4 separate regions of the Homo sapiens genome follow, and all the other regions are reported to be linked to region 4. Evidence: microRNA targets listed by miRTarBase, many of them from high-throughput screens and not tested one by one. Region 4 holds a microRNA gene; each other region holds the end of a gene's coding sequence.

The links. The annotated mature microRNA hsa-miR-5189-5p reads UCUGGGCACAGGCGGAUGGACAGG and lies in region 4 at 1,359-1,382, opposite strand. An mRNA with a match to its seed (bases 2 to 7 or 8) in the 3' UTR can be bound and repressed. Matches are read on the target gene's strand: a 7mer-m8 pairs with bases 2 to 8, a 7mer-A1 pairs with bases 2 to 7 and ends in A, and an 8mer does both.
Region 1: miRTarBase lists EVC as a target of hsa-miR-5189-5p. Seed matches in the 3' UTR shown: 8mer at 1,867-1,874, 7mer-m8 at 2,374-2,380 and 7mer-A1 at 2,776-2,782.
Region 2: the mRNA of F2RL2 is a reported target of hsa-miR-5189-5p. Seed matches in the 3' UTR shown: 7mer-m8 at 2,252-2,258 and 7mer-m8 at 1,605-1,611.
Region 3: miRTarBase lists SUSD5 as a target of hsa-miR-5189-5p. Seed matches in the 3' UTR shown: 7mer-m8 at 872-878 and 7mer-m8 at 990-996.

The regions. Positions count from the first base shown.
Region 1 is chr4:5,810,867-5,813,932 of GRCh38, forward strand. It overlaps EVC (EvC ciliary complex subunit 1), which reads left to right. Exons shown (of 21, transcript NM_153717.3): 21 at 87-3,066. The coding sequence ends at 171. Among named protein-coding and RNA genes, the nearest start is that of CRMP1, 81 kb to the right of the region's middle. RefSeq lists an enhancer at 2,116-2,165.
Region 2 is chr5:76,615,055-76,618,116 of GRCh38, forward strand. It overlaps F2RL2 (coagulation factor II thrombin receptor like 2), which reads right to left. Exons shown (of 2, transcript NM_004101.4): 2 at 428-3,062. The coding sequence ends at 2,528. All of the region lies in intron 13 of IQGAP2 (IQ motif containing GTPase activating protein 2), which reads left to right. Among named protein-coding and RNA genes, the nearest start is that of F2RL2, 6.8 kb to the right of the region's middle.
Region 3 is chr3:33,150,199-33,153,270 of GRCh38, reverse strand. It overlaps SUSD5 (sushi domain containing 5), which reads left to right. Exons shown (of 5, transcript NM_015551.2): 5 at 1-3,072. The coding sequence ends at 529. Among named protein-coding and RNA genes, the nearest start is that of CRTAP, 38 kb to the right of the region's middle. RefSeq lists an enhancer at 1-456.
Region 4 is chr16:88,467,253-88,470,324 of GRCh38, reverse strand. MIR5189 (microRNA 5189) reads right to left here and starts at 1,407; the gene lies at 1,294-1,407. All of the region lies in intron 1 of ZFPM1 (zinc finger protein, FOG family member 1), which reads right to left.

The DNA of each region.
Region 1 (3,066 bases), not on the chromosome of region 4:
TCATTTAATCCGATTGGGTAAGTTATGGCATCATGATGGGCATGGAGTCAGCGTTCTAACTGGCTGCCTTTCTTCTCTGTTTTAAGCAGCAAAAGGCTGAGTCAGCAAGAAAGTGAAGCTGGGGACAGTGGGAACTCAAAGAAGATGCTAAAGAGAAGAAGCAACTTGTAGTTTAAGACCAGTCGGTGGGACAAGACCTGAAGCCCTGGGTCTGGGTGTGAATTCCACCTTCCCTCCTGCAGTGCTGAGAGGCAGCGAGGACGGAGAGGACAGCGGCATCTCTAGGCTCTTCTGAGAGGGACAGAGAAAGAATAGAAATGTGCCCTAAAAGCATAAATGAGTATCACCTGAGAAAATTAGGCATTCCCGTCTTGGAAACACGTCTCTGTGAGTTTGCATTTCATTTGGCTTGGAGCCCTGGCTCGATGCCTCATGGATCTTTCTCCCCAAGGAGGGACGTCTTGAGGGGTCCGAGCCTCAGGCCAAGGACCCCTGATGCAGACTCTGGAATCCCTGGCCCAAAGGCCTGTCTGGGCCCATCTGGGGCTGAGGACACACAGATACATAATGACACCTGCAGAAATGTATTCTCTGAGGACACTTAGAATATGAGGAAGAGGGTGTGGCCCAACCCTCACTTCACCTGGGGAGGGGCTTCTTCCGGACAGTAGACACCCTGCCCGTGCAGAGAGATGTCATGGGGGCACCTGCTCTCCCTGATAGATGCTGAGAGCATCCAGAAACTTCCAGACCAGCCCTCTCACCACACCCAGAAGAGGCCTTTCCCATCTGGAGAGAAGCTTCCAGACCAGCCCTTCACACACCACAGCCAGGAGGGGCCTTTCCCACCTGGAGAGAAACTTCCAGACCAGCCCCTCATACCACAGCCAAGAGGGGCCTTTCTCACCTGGAGAGAAATTTCCAGACCATCCCCTCTCACCACAGCCAGGAGAGGCCTTTCCCACCGGTAGAGAAACTTCCAGACCAGCCCCTCACACCACAGCCAAGAGAAGCCTTTCCAGCCTGGAGAGAAACTTCCAGACCAGCCCTCTCACTACAGCCAGGAGAGGCCTTTCCCGCCTGGAAACTTCCGGACAAGCCTCTCACACACCACAGCCAGGAGAGGCCTTTCCCACCTGGACAGAAACTTCCAGACCAGCCCCTCTCACCACAGCCAGGAGAGGCCTTTACCACCTGGAGAGAAGCTTCCAGACCAGCCCCTCACACCACAGCCAGGAGAGGCCTTTCCCACCTGGAGAGAAACTTCCAGACCAGCCCCTCATACCACAGCCAAGAGGGGCCTTTCTCACCTGGAGAGAAACTTCCAGACCAGCCCCTCACACCACCGCCAGGAGAGGCCTTTCCCACCGGGAGAGAAACTTCCAGACCAGCCCCTCACACCACAGCCAGGAGAGGCCTTTCCCACCGGGAGAGAAACTTCCAGACCAGCCCTCTCACTACAGCCAGAAGAGGCCTTTCCCACCGGGAGAGGAACTTCCAGACCAGCCCCTCACACCACAGCCAGGAGAGGCCTTTCCCGCCTGGAGAGAAGCTTCAGGCCAGCTCCTCACACCACAGCCAGGAGAGACCTTTTCTGCCTGGAGAGAAACTTTCAGACCAGCCCCACACACCACAGCCAGGAGAGGCCGTTCCTGCCTGGAGAGAAGCTTCCAGACCAGCCCTTCACACCACAGCCAGGAGAGGCCTTTCCCACCTGGAGAGAAACTTCCAGACCAGCCCCTCTCACCACAGCCAGGAGAGGCCGTTCCCACCTGGAGGGAAAATTGCTCCTTTGATGGAGGTTAGGGACTGTCACCCTCAGCACTGTGAACATACCGGGCGAGATCATTCTTCAGGGGAAGGAGCTGCCCAGAGCATCACAGGATGTTCCAGTGTCCCTGGTCTCTGCCCACCAGATGCCAGCACTCCCACCATTCGTGGCAACCAAGGATGTCTCCAGACACTGCCCCGTGTCCATGGGGTTATCACCCACTGTGCTGAGTCAAAGGGTGCCTTGCCCTGGTCTAATCCAGGACATAGCCGTGGATACGTCCAAAAATCCCCAGAACCTAGTGAGCCCTCTGGCTCTGGGAGCCCCTATCTCAGGAATTTTCAGGGTCATTTGTGACTTTTCATTTCTTAAAACCTGAAATAGACTCTCTTAGAAACAAGTGACTCCTTCCCAGTGGCCAAAACTTAATCATCAGAGCGCTTCCTTCAGTTCCTCACCCATCAGCCAGTGGGCTCTCCAAAGTTAACCAACAGCTCCCTCTTGTGGTTCACTAAAAAACTTGGTTATTCCATGGAGTTGTGCAAAGCTATGGCTTCCTTGGTGCAATATTCTTAAAACCTGCTTTGCATAGAAATCACTTTTGCCCAGGCTGGAGTGCAGTGGCGTGATCTCGGCTCATGGCAATCTCCATCTCCCGGGTTCAAGCGATTTTCCTGCCTCAGCCTCCCCAGTAGCTGGGACTACAGACGTGTGCCACCACGCCTGGCTAAATCTTTTTTGTATTTTATTTTAGTAGAGACGGGGTTTCACCATACTGGCCAGGCTGCTCTCGAACTCCTGACCTCATCGTCCACCTGCCTCGGCCTCCCCAAAGTGCTGAGATTAGGCGTTAGCCACCGCGCCCGGCCAGAAATCACTTTTATATTGTCACATGGGCCCTCTGCACAGAGTCCGATGGCTCCTCCCGGGGAAGCCTGATTTTGTGACGTGTGTATAGTAAATGCAGGCCCTCTGGCAGCACCATAATTGGTCGGTTACCCTGAGCCCAGAGCTCTGAAAGCATCTGTGGAATGATCACGGGACCCTTCTCCTCTGAGAAGGCTCCCGGCTGCCTCCCCGCCACCGAGCTTGTAGCCTGAATGCCTGGCTGTCGCATGGAGCATTTTGCTTCTGGGGTGTCTTCCTTAGCCAAAGGGAACGTGTCATTTGCTCGACCCTGGCCCACCCTTGCCGCCCAGCTGTTGTGCTGGGCACAGTCTGGGGCACAGGCCTCCATGATGAAGACGCGTGGGCTGTCGGTGCTTTCATCCGTCACAAACTGGCACCTGTACCTG
Region 2 (3,062 bases), not on the chromosome of region 4:
CTCTTGGAAAGAGACTTGAGTAATGGTCATGTTGACTTTAACACTTTTTCTATGTCTGTTCACTGGGTGGTGTGTGCTATTTTACAATTGAAGGTTTTGCTTGTGAACATATGAGTTATACTCCACCAAAAAGTTCTGTTTTGCTCCTTGTATATACCATAAAAACTGTGTGCTTTTAACGAATATTGCTGTATTTTTTCCTTAGGTAAAACTGTGTTGTAATTGATGACTTAGTTTTCAGAAGTCAGCTCCTTCCATTTAAGTTTCTATCTTCTTGAAACTTACTTTAGGTTTGTTTTTCATTCTCACTTTAGTGTTTACCTGAGTTTTGCTCTTTGCATAACCACACACATATTATAAAGGGTCTTCATGTGGAAGCTTTTTACTTAAGTCTGATGAAATAGAAAACTGTGTACATTTAAAAATATGCATTTAAAATTGTTTTTTATTGTTTTGTTGGGCAGTATGAAATATACAGTCAAGGCAGATTCGTACAGACTTGTAAAGTCATCTCAGGAATCTTTTATGCTTAAAGTTTCCTCAGCCCCATTTATATTCACTACTATCATTCACTCTTTACCACTAATATCTTCCCTGCTGTCTAATCACTAATATCTTCCCTCCTGTCTAATCACTAATGTCTTCCTTCCTGTCTAATCACTGAGTTAAGGGAAAAATAGTCATTTACTTACAGGAATATAATGGGTATTAATAACAAAATTCCATTTCCCCATTAAAAGCTATGTCTAAGAAAAAAAATAGTGGAGGCATTATTTAAAACTTCTAAATGGCCTGGTGAGTATAGTCTTAGTTTAGCTTCCTTACTTTTTTGTATGCCCAACCTGAAATGATGTCATCCCGTATCATCACAGTATGTTGCTTTTTCAGTACGAAGTTAATGGGCTTTCCTGCTGTTTAACTGCTTTGAGATTTTAAAAATTCATTCAGCCACATAGTATTCAAAGCATGGAGCTGGGTGCCACAAAGACTTGGGCCTGGCATCACCCAGAAGCTCAAGGAAGGCAGAGGATGAGCACCTTCTCCATTATACTTGGTACTTGATTGTTCATGGAATTAAAATTTAAATATAAATGAACTATATATAAATGCCATAATAAAAATATACGAAAGTGCTTTGGAAGTACAGATAAGAAAAGTGACACTTCTAGCCTGAGAATCAGGGAAGAATGGTCCTTCAAGGACTTGAAAAAATGAACAGAATTAAGGCAAAGACGTTAGGACTAGCTTTTCAGTCTGAGGCAGAGTGGAGATATAGCAGAGCAAGAGGTTTGGTTGGTGCCTATATCATAAGCAAGGTTTAATGGGAAGTGTGATTAGCAAGTTAGCCTTGAATGCCAGGCTAAAGATTTATGATTTATTATAGAAACAGTGGAGTTAGTGGAAATGTTTTAGTGATGTATCCTAACTGATATCTAAGGAAGATTAATCTGGCAGGACTTGTGAAGTGGTGGAGGGTAGGCTGGCAGTGGAGAGAATGGTTAGAAGGTAGAGGTGGCCTGGACGTAGTGGCTCATGCCTGTAGTCCCAGCACTTTGGGAGGCTGAGATAGGAAGATCACTCGAGACCAGGAGTTCAAGACCAGCCTGGGCAACAGTGAGACTCCATCTCTGCAAAAAATAAAAAATAAAATTAGTTGGGTATGGTGGTGCATGCCTGTAGTCTTAGTTACTTGGGAGGCTGAGACAGCAGGATTGCTTGAGCCCAGGAGTTGGAGGCTGAAGTGAGCTATGATCAGGCTACTGCACTTCAGCCAGGTGACGAAGCGAGACACTGTCTCTATTAAAAAAAGGAAAAAAGAAGGCAAAGGTGAAACTAGATAAAAGACCCTGGTGAGGGACCCTACAAAGATAGAATCAGTTGATGAGGCAGCCACCAGCATGAGAGTCAAAAGAGACCAAAGAATAAAAAATGATGTCAAATGTCAAGGATGGCAATACCACTCACAGAAATAGGGAAGATGGTGATTTAAAGAGCTTGAAGTAGCAATAAGGCAAATGGAAATGTCATTTTCCATAGAGTTGTGATATCTTTTCTCCTGCATTAACATTTTTAAAATACTGATAAAGTGTTTTTAAAAATTACTAATGCTGGCTGGCTCAGTGGCTCACGCCTGTAATCCAGCACTTTGGGAGGCTGAGGCCGGAAGATCACTTGAGGTCAGGAGTTCAAGACCAGCCTGGTCAACATGGTGAAACCCCGTCTCTACTAAAAATACAAGTATTTTTAGTAGCTGGGCATGGTGGTGTAATCCCAGCTACTTGGGAGGCTGACCTGGGAGGCAGAGGTTGCAATGAGCCAAGATAGTGCCACTGCACGCCAGTCTGGGTGATAAAGTGAGACTCAGTCTCAAAAACAAACAAACAAACTACTAATGCTTTTGTAATGTTTGACCTTTGAAGCATATTTCTTAGGAGCTCGGAAATGGAGCTCCTTGCACTATGCTTATGTTGTTCTTGAAAACAGACGTTCTCTGTGATGGCTGTCCTTGTTCTCTAAGATCATTTCACTATTTTGTAAGGTAAGCAGTGGAGTGATTTCTGGTTTTTGACATGAGAAAATAAAGGAATGGATCTAAGCAACTATTAAGACTACCCAGGCACAAAGCTATGAGATATATAAAATATAAGCCATCAGTGTTGTTGTAGTAGTAGTTAGCATGGTGAATAATAAGAATAATATTGCTTGGAGCAAAGCAAATGGTAAAAATCACAAGGATGAGGAGACTCGCCTTAACATACCACAACCATCTATGATCGTATGCATTAAGTGTCCGGATGATGGCTGCATAGCAGTAGATGATAAGCACAAATGGAATTAAGAATCCAAAGAATGCCAAGGAGATGAAGTAATAGAGTTGGAAGGGAGATGAGGACTCGCAAGTGTTGTGAACATCATGGCAGGTGGTGATGTCTGGCTGAACAAGATAATATTCCTGCTTCAGTATGAAAAATGGCAGCATATATAAGAAAACTGTTGCCCACACCAGTCCACATGTTACCAAGGCATAGGTGTGCTTGGGCAGGCCCCGGTAGGTGAAAGGA
Region 3 (3,072 bases), not on the chromosome of region 4:
TTCCGAGACTGAGGGCATTGGGGATGGTGACTTGACGAAGTACCAGTCAACTCTACCCTGGAGATTCATCACAGAGGAATCTCCCATGGCCACCCTGTCCTATGAGCTCACCAGCTCCACCCTGGAGATATTAACAGTGAACACTGTCAAGCAGACACCTAACCACATCCCCTCAACGATCATGGCAACCACCCAGCCTCCAGTAGAAACCACTGTTCCTGAGATCCAGGATAGCTTCCCATACCTGCTGTCTGAAGACTTCTTTGGACAGGAAGGCCCCGGGCCAGGTGCAAGTGAGGAGCTTCATCCCACCTTGGAGTCGTGTGTGGGGGACGGATGTCCTGGCCTCAGCAGAGGCCCTGTGATCGCCACCATTGTCACCGTCCTGTGCCTACTGCTGCTCCTGGCAGGTGTGGGGATGGTGTGGGGCTACCGCAAGTGCCAGCACAAGAGCTCTGTGTACAAGCTGAATGTTGGCCAGCGGCAGGCTCGGCACTACCACCAGCAGATCGAGATGGAGAAGGTCTAGGCACCTTTGGAGTGGGTTCTCCCAAAGCCACTTGGGAGGAAAATAACTGTGACACATCACACGATAATTCACTAGAGCATGACGCAGGTGGACTGAGGCTCATCATTTTTTCCTCAGCCCTTTGTTTTATAGGCTGAGAAGTGTCTCTGGAGCACCTGGGAGGGCAGGGAGGCTTTGGTGACATCATCACTCATGTCAATGTCTCCTCCACCATCTGCCCTGGAATTGACTACACTAATCCCAGACCTGTGCTTGGGCCCTGTTTCCAGTGTGAGGTCAAAAATCGCCTCTTCCTTCATCACAGTATTATCTTTTTTTTTTTGAGACAGAGTCTCATGCTGTTGCCCAGGCTGGAGTGCAGTGTCCCGATCTGAGCTCACTGCAACCTCTGCCTCCCAAGTTCAAGCAATTCTCCTGCCTCAGCCTCCCAAGTAGGTGGGATTACAGGCATGCACCACCATGCCCAGCTAATTTTTTTATATTTTTAGTAGAGATGGAGTTTCACCATGTTGGCCAGGCTGGTCAAGAACTCCTGACCTCAAGTGATCTGCCCTCCTTAGCCTCCCAAAGTGCTAGGATTCCAGGTGTGAGCCACATCACAGTATTACCTTTTTGAAGAAAGAAAATCACCAGCTTCATGCCCTGAAATTTTATAAATAGTCATGATAAACCAAGTGTATGAGAGCAGTATTATCTAGGACATGGATATTGAATTATTGGGAGAGGAATATGGAAGAATAATGGGTTGTTTCCTTTTAATGTTGTGATGTTGCTGAGGGCAGATGAACCAAGAGCCAGGACACAGTCTAGAAGCTTTGAGGTTTCTTTTTTCATTGTTTCTTGAAATTAGAATTTAAGACTGACATTTTGTTGGGGGAGTTGAGGAGTGAAGAAACACACATCCCCCTCTGTTCCCTCCATTCTGTGGGACAGTCTGTCATTTATTTTATTTTATTTTCAATATTTCATGGTTAAGGATTTGCCATTATTTTTTAAAAACAAAGTTAGCTTTGTACCAGTAAGTACCATTTCCTCTCAGAAGCAGTGGCCTAGTTGTCCTTGACCAGTCTGTGCCTAGGAATGTCTTGGAATTTTTGCCAGGACTAACAAAACTCAGTCCTTGGTTTCCTCTCTCAGGATTAACCATTTCTCTGAACTCCAGTAAGAGAGAATGACACGGGAGAAAAAAAAAAGAAATGTTTTCAGAGGGCCGAACACCAGGTTATCAAGTATGGGCACATACTTGATGGAGAAGCAGAAGAATCTGTGAAAGAATATGAAATGATCTGTGCTGATCTGTTCTCTAGTGTGGAAACTGGGAGCTCTGTGGAAACAGAATCCATCCTGTCTGTTGGGTAACCCATTTCGTAGCATCTAAATCATCTTAGGGTGGCTCAGCGAGGATGGTTTATGGCAGTGGTTCTCAAAGTGTGGTCCTCAGACCAGTAGCATCAGCGTCACCTGGGAATTTGTTGGAGATGCAAATTCTCTAGTCCCACCCTGGACTCAGGAAACAGGAACCCTGGGAGTAGGGCCCAGTTCTGTTTTTAACAAGCCCTCCAGGTGATTTTGATATGCACTCAAGTTTGAGAGCCTGTTGGTTTATAATAATCTCAAATGTGAACTTCGAGGCCAGCTGAAGCCCTAAAGGCACAGATGAGTATGTGGTGTGTGTTGTGTGGAAGTCAGGCATGGCTGTGTGCAGCTGAGGTGGCATTTGAAGCTGCCTAAATGCCACCTGCAATAGTCTCCTGTATGTTGGCACAGAAATGAAACATGTTATATTTTTCTAATATGAATCACCTTCTTAGAAATAGTTATCAGTGGTAAAAAGTGATGAATGCAACACATTTATTTTGAGACACCATAGCAGTCTAAGTGTTTTTGTGTGGTAGAGGGAAATCCTGATCTTTTTTATGATTGAAAAATTGTTGGTGGTGTTTTACCTAAGGAAAAAAAACATTCGCAACATGTTTTCTACCCTGCCACCTCTTTTCAGCAAGCTTTGGAAAAGTAATAGGCGAAGTAGCTGTAAAGAGAGGCAGCATAATCAAAGATCTTATTCCCCATAGTTGGGTAAAATAAAGCCTGAAGGTACCAACTAGAATACCTGTGCATCAGACGAAGTCAAGAACAATAGGAATAAAATGCTTTCTGCATGTAGCCAAAGCAAAACATAATAGAATAAAAGCCAGAGACTGTATATATTTATAAATTAGATCCTAATCTACTGCAAGATAACTTTTCTATTTTTAACTATATAAAATAACCTCTGTCTCAGCATTGGGACTGTGTTAGCAACTATTATTGTGGAATAACCCAGAACATTGGATTTATACCAACAAATAGGCAATATTAATACAGTGTATTAATAAATTTATTACAAATTATTAATACAGTGTATTAATAAATTTATTACAAATTATTAATACAGGTAAATGTTTTATTTGTAGACATGGACTGTGAAATAAACCCAACACATCAGTTTTTAAGTTCTTATTGGTGTGGTATCCTCTAAATTAATGTTATAGAATCTAAAAATT
Region 4 (3,072 bases):
AGTACAGGGGACACCCGTGGGCATCCAGAGGCTGCCCGCCCCAACCCGTCCAGCAGCCCTGTCCCCAGGACAGGTGGGGTGGCCCTGACAGCAAGGACCCCGCAGGAGTGAGTCACAGCCCCAGCACAGGGACAAGGACCGTGGCTCTCCACAGGCGATGCTCCTACACGGGAGGGGCCTTTGCCCAGGACAATGCTGGCTCTGGAGGCCCTGGCTTTTTCTCCGTTTCCTTTTTCCTTCTGCTTGCTTTGCCTCTGGGGACACAGCCAGGCACAGGGAGCAGATCCAGAAATCAGCTGGGGAGTATTTATGGAGCACCTACTGTATGCCCCAAGCTGTCCTGGGAGAGGACAGAGCTGCCTGCATGTGTGGAGACCCCTCTGCAGACTGGGAGGGCTGCGTGGGGAGATCCTCTGGGCTGGGCACGCACCTCTGACCCTCACCACGTGAGAGGCACTGCACCCCACGTTAGGGGGTGGGGCCCTGGCCAAGGTGATGTCTGGTTCTGGTCGGACGGCCCCTCCCTACTTCCTCTCCTTAGATCTCAGCCCAGACTCTTTCTCTCCTCGCCCCGCCACTATTTTCCACTTACACATTTTTGACAAACACCCACACCTGTGGCTGATTTTCAGGTGCCGTGGGAGCTGACAGGGCCTCCAGCCAGGTCTCAGGCCGGCGGAGCCTGCCTCATCCTGGTCTTGCCAGCAAGACCCACTGTGCAGTGTGGGTGGATGCAGAACACAGGTGCATGCCCCCTAAGGTGTCCTAAGCCCCCTGTAGACATGGTCTCCTGGCACATGAATTTCTGACAATGGGAAATCTGGAAGACCCCAGGTTTCCAGGCTATGCCACAGCCACAGACAGGAGGACCCCCAGAGAACCTGCCACCTCAGCCTCATGGTGTGGAAGGGGAAACTGAGGCCCAGGCCGGCAAGGGGCTTGCTGAAGAGCCCAGAAACCATCCTGGGAGGCAGACCTACTAGACCGCCTTCCGGTTTTACAGATGGGGAGGCTGAGGGTGGGCAAAGGGGTTGGGACTGTCATTCATTAAGATGGTGCCACGTCCCTGGCCCGGCCGGCACTTCAGAAGCTTGGCAGAATGAGGTTCCGGATGGAAGTCAGCGCGGGGAGAGGGTGGAGCGGTGGGGGGCAGCCTGCAGGAGGGTCTGGAGTGGGCCCAGACATGGGGGTGGGAGGCTGGCTGGCCCCAGGGCCGTCCCTGCCGGGTTGTGAAACTCGCTGTTCCCATCTGGGAGTGGCTGCTGGCTGCACTCCTCTCGGGAACTCCTGGGTCCTGGTCCCCAACTGAGGCCACGTGGGTCTGGGCTCTGACGGTTGGCAGGTCATCCAGAGGCCAGCCTGTCCATCCGCCTGTGCCCAGACAGCGAGGCCCCTAAAAGGCGGGCCCTTCCAGAGCCGGTGGTGGTGGTGGCAGAGGTCTCCCGTCCTGGGGCAGGGTCCAGGATGGGAACTACTCCCCCAGGTCAAGGGCAGCCCCTGGAGGAGGCCCTGCCCCCACACAGCAGCTCAGCCAATCCCTGGGCCTCACCCCTGCTCATTTGCATACCCCATTTCCATTGGCTGCCAACAGGCTGGTTAGGACAGTGGTGCCCTGGCCATGGGGGTGGGGCTCTGGGGGGCGGGGCCCTGGGGGTATCAGATTCTGGGTGACTGGTCCCAGCCCCAAGTCTAGGGTCAGAAAGCTGCATGGGGCTGGTGGGGGGCTTCAGTTACAGTGCAGGCTCTCCCCTTTCCTCGAAGGCTCCCTGACATCCATTCAGGGATGACTCTGAGTGGGAAAGATACTGGTCCAAGGTCGTACAGCCAAGAGGCCGGCACAGCTGGGACCTGGCCCCAAGTCCCAACCCCTCTCCAAGGCCGGCCTCTTTTCTCCTGTGGGGGCCTGTTGAGAGCGACTTCTTATTTTTGGCTGCCTTGTTTCAGGGAGGGCTATTTGGGGGCTTTCTTTGCAAAATGATGATGATGATGACTTTCAGAGCACCCCGAGTGCTCAGCTCTCCCTCTAGATCTGGTGGCTCTGTGCGCCGCAGGCAGTGGGCTCGCGGGTGCGTCGGGACGGTGGGCTCGCGGGTGCTTGAGGGGCGGTGGGCTCGCGGGTGCTTGAGGGGCGGTGGGCTCGCGGGTGCGTCAGGGCCTGTGGGCTCGCGGGTGGGTCAGGGGCAGTGGGCTCGCGGGTGCGTGAGGGGCGGTGGGCTCGCAGGTGCGTCAGCGGCCGGTGGGCTCGCGGGTGGGTCGGGGCGGTGGGCTCGCGGGGGCGTGAGGGGCGGTGGGCTCGCGGGTGTGTGAGGGGCGGTGGGGGGCTCGCGGGTGTGCGGGTTGAGAGTGTGTTCTCACTTTTGTTCCTGGCATTAGGGTGGGGTGAGATAAGGGGAAGGGGGGCCGCTCAGCTCGAGCAAGCAGATAGATAACGGCGATAGCACCTCCTCCACCGCACAGCACGCATCGCCCTTTTTTATCAAGTTCTCTTTTCTTCTTTTTCGTTGTAGGGTGGTAGAGTAGAAAACACCCCACCCCCACCTCCCAAAGCCATGGAACTAGGGGGTGGGGGCCTCCCCATCTCAGGTCCCAGCCACAAAGGGCACGGGTCAGCTTAGGGCCCGCTGTGCCCAACACGCCCAGCAGCCAGCCCAGAGCCCGTGACTGGAGGAGGGAGGGGATCCAAGGCAGCTGCGAGGCCCGGGGTCCGGAGGTCCCAGCATGACAGGAGCAGCTGCGCATGTGCCCTGCAAGGCAGGTCTCGCGGTCTACACCATCAGCTCCTTGAAAGGACTCTGAGAGGGCGACTGGCACCCCATTTTATAGGAAAAGGCAGCAAAGCCCAGAGAAGTGAAGTGTCACTGGGGCGGGTGCTGAGCTCCTTCCTCGAGAAGCCCTGGGTGGGCACCGCTGGGAGGGGTGGGGAGACCTCAGGGGGGTTGGCCATGGCCTGCAGGGCAGGCTTAGCGGTGTCGGCCCTATTTGACAGATGAGGAAACTGAGACCTGAGACTCTGGGATGTGTGTGAGAACCAGGGCCATGGGGACAGATGCTGTACCCCCTGCTTGTTTGCTG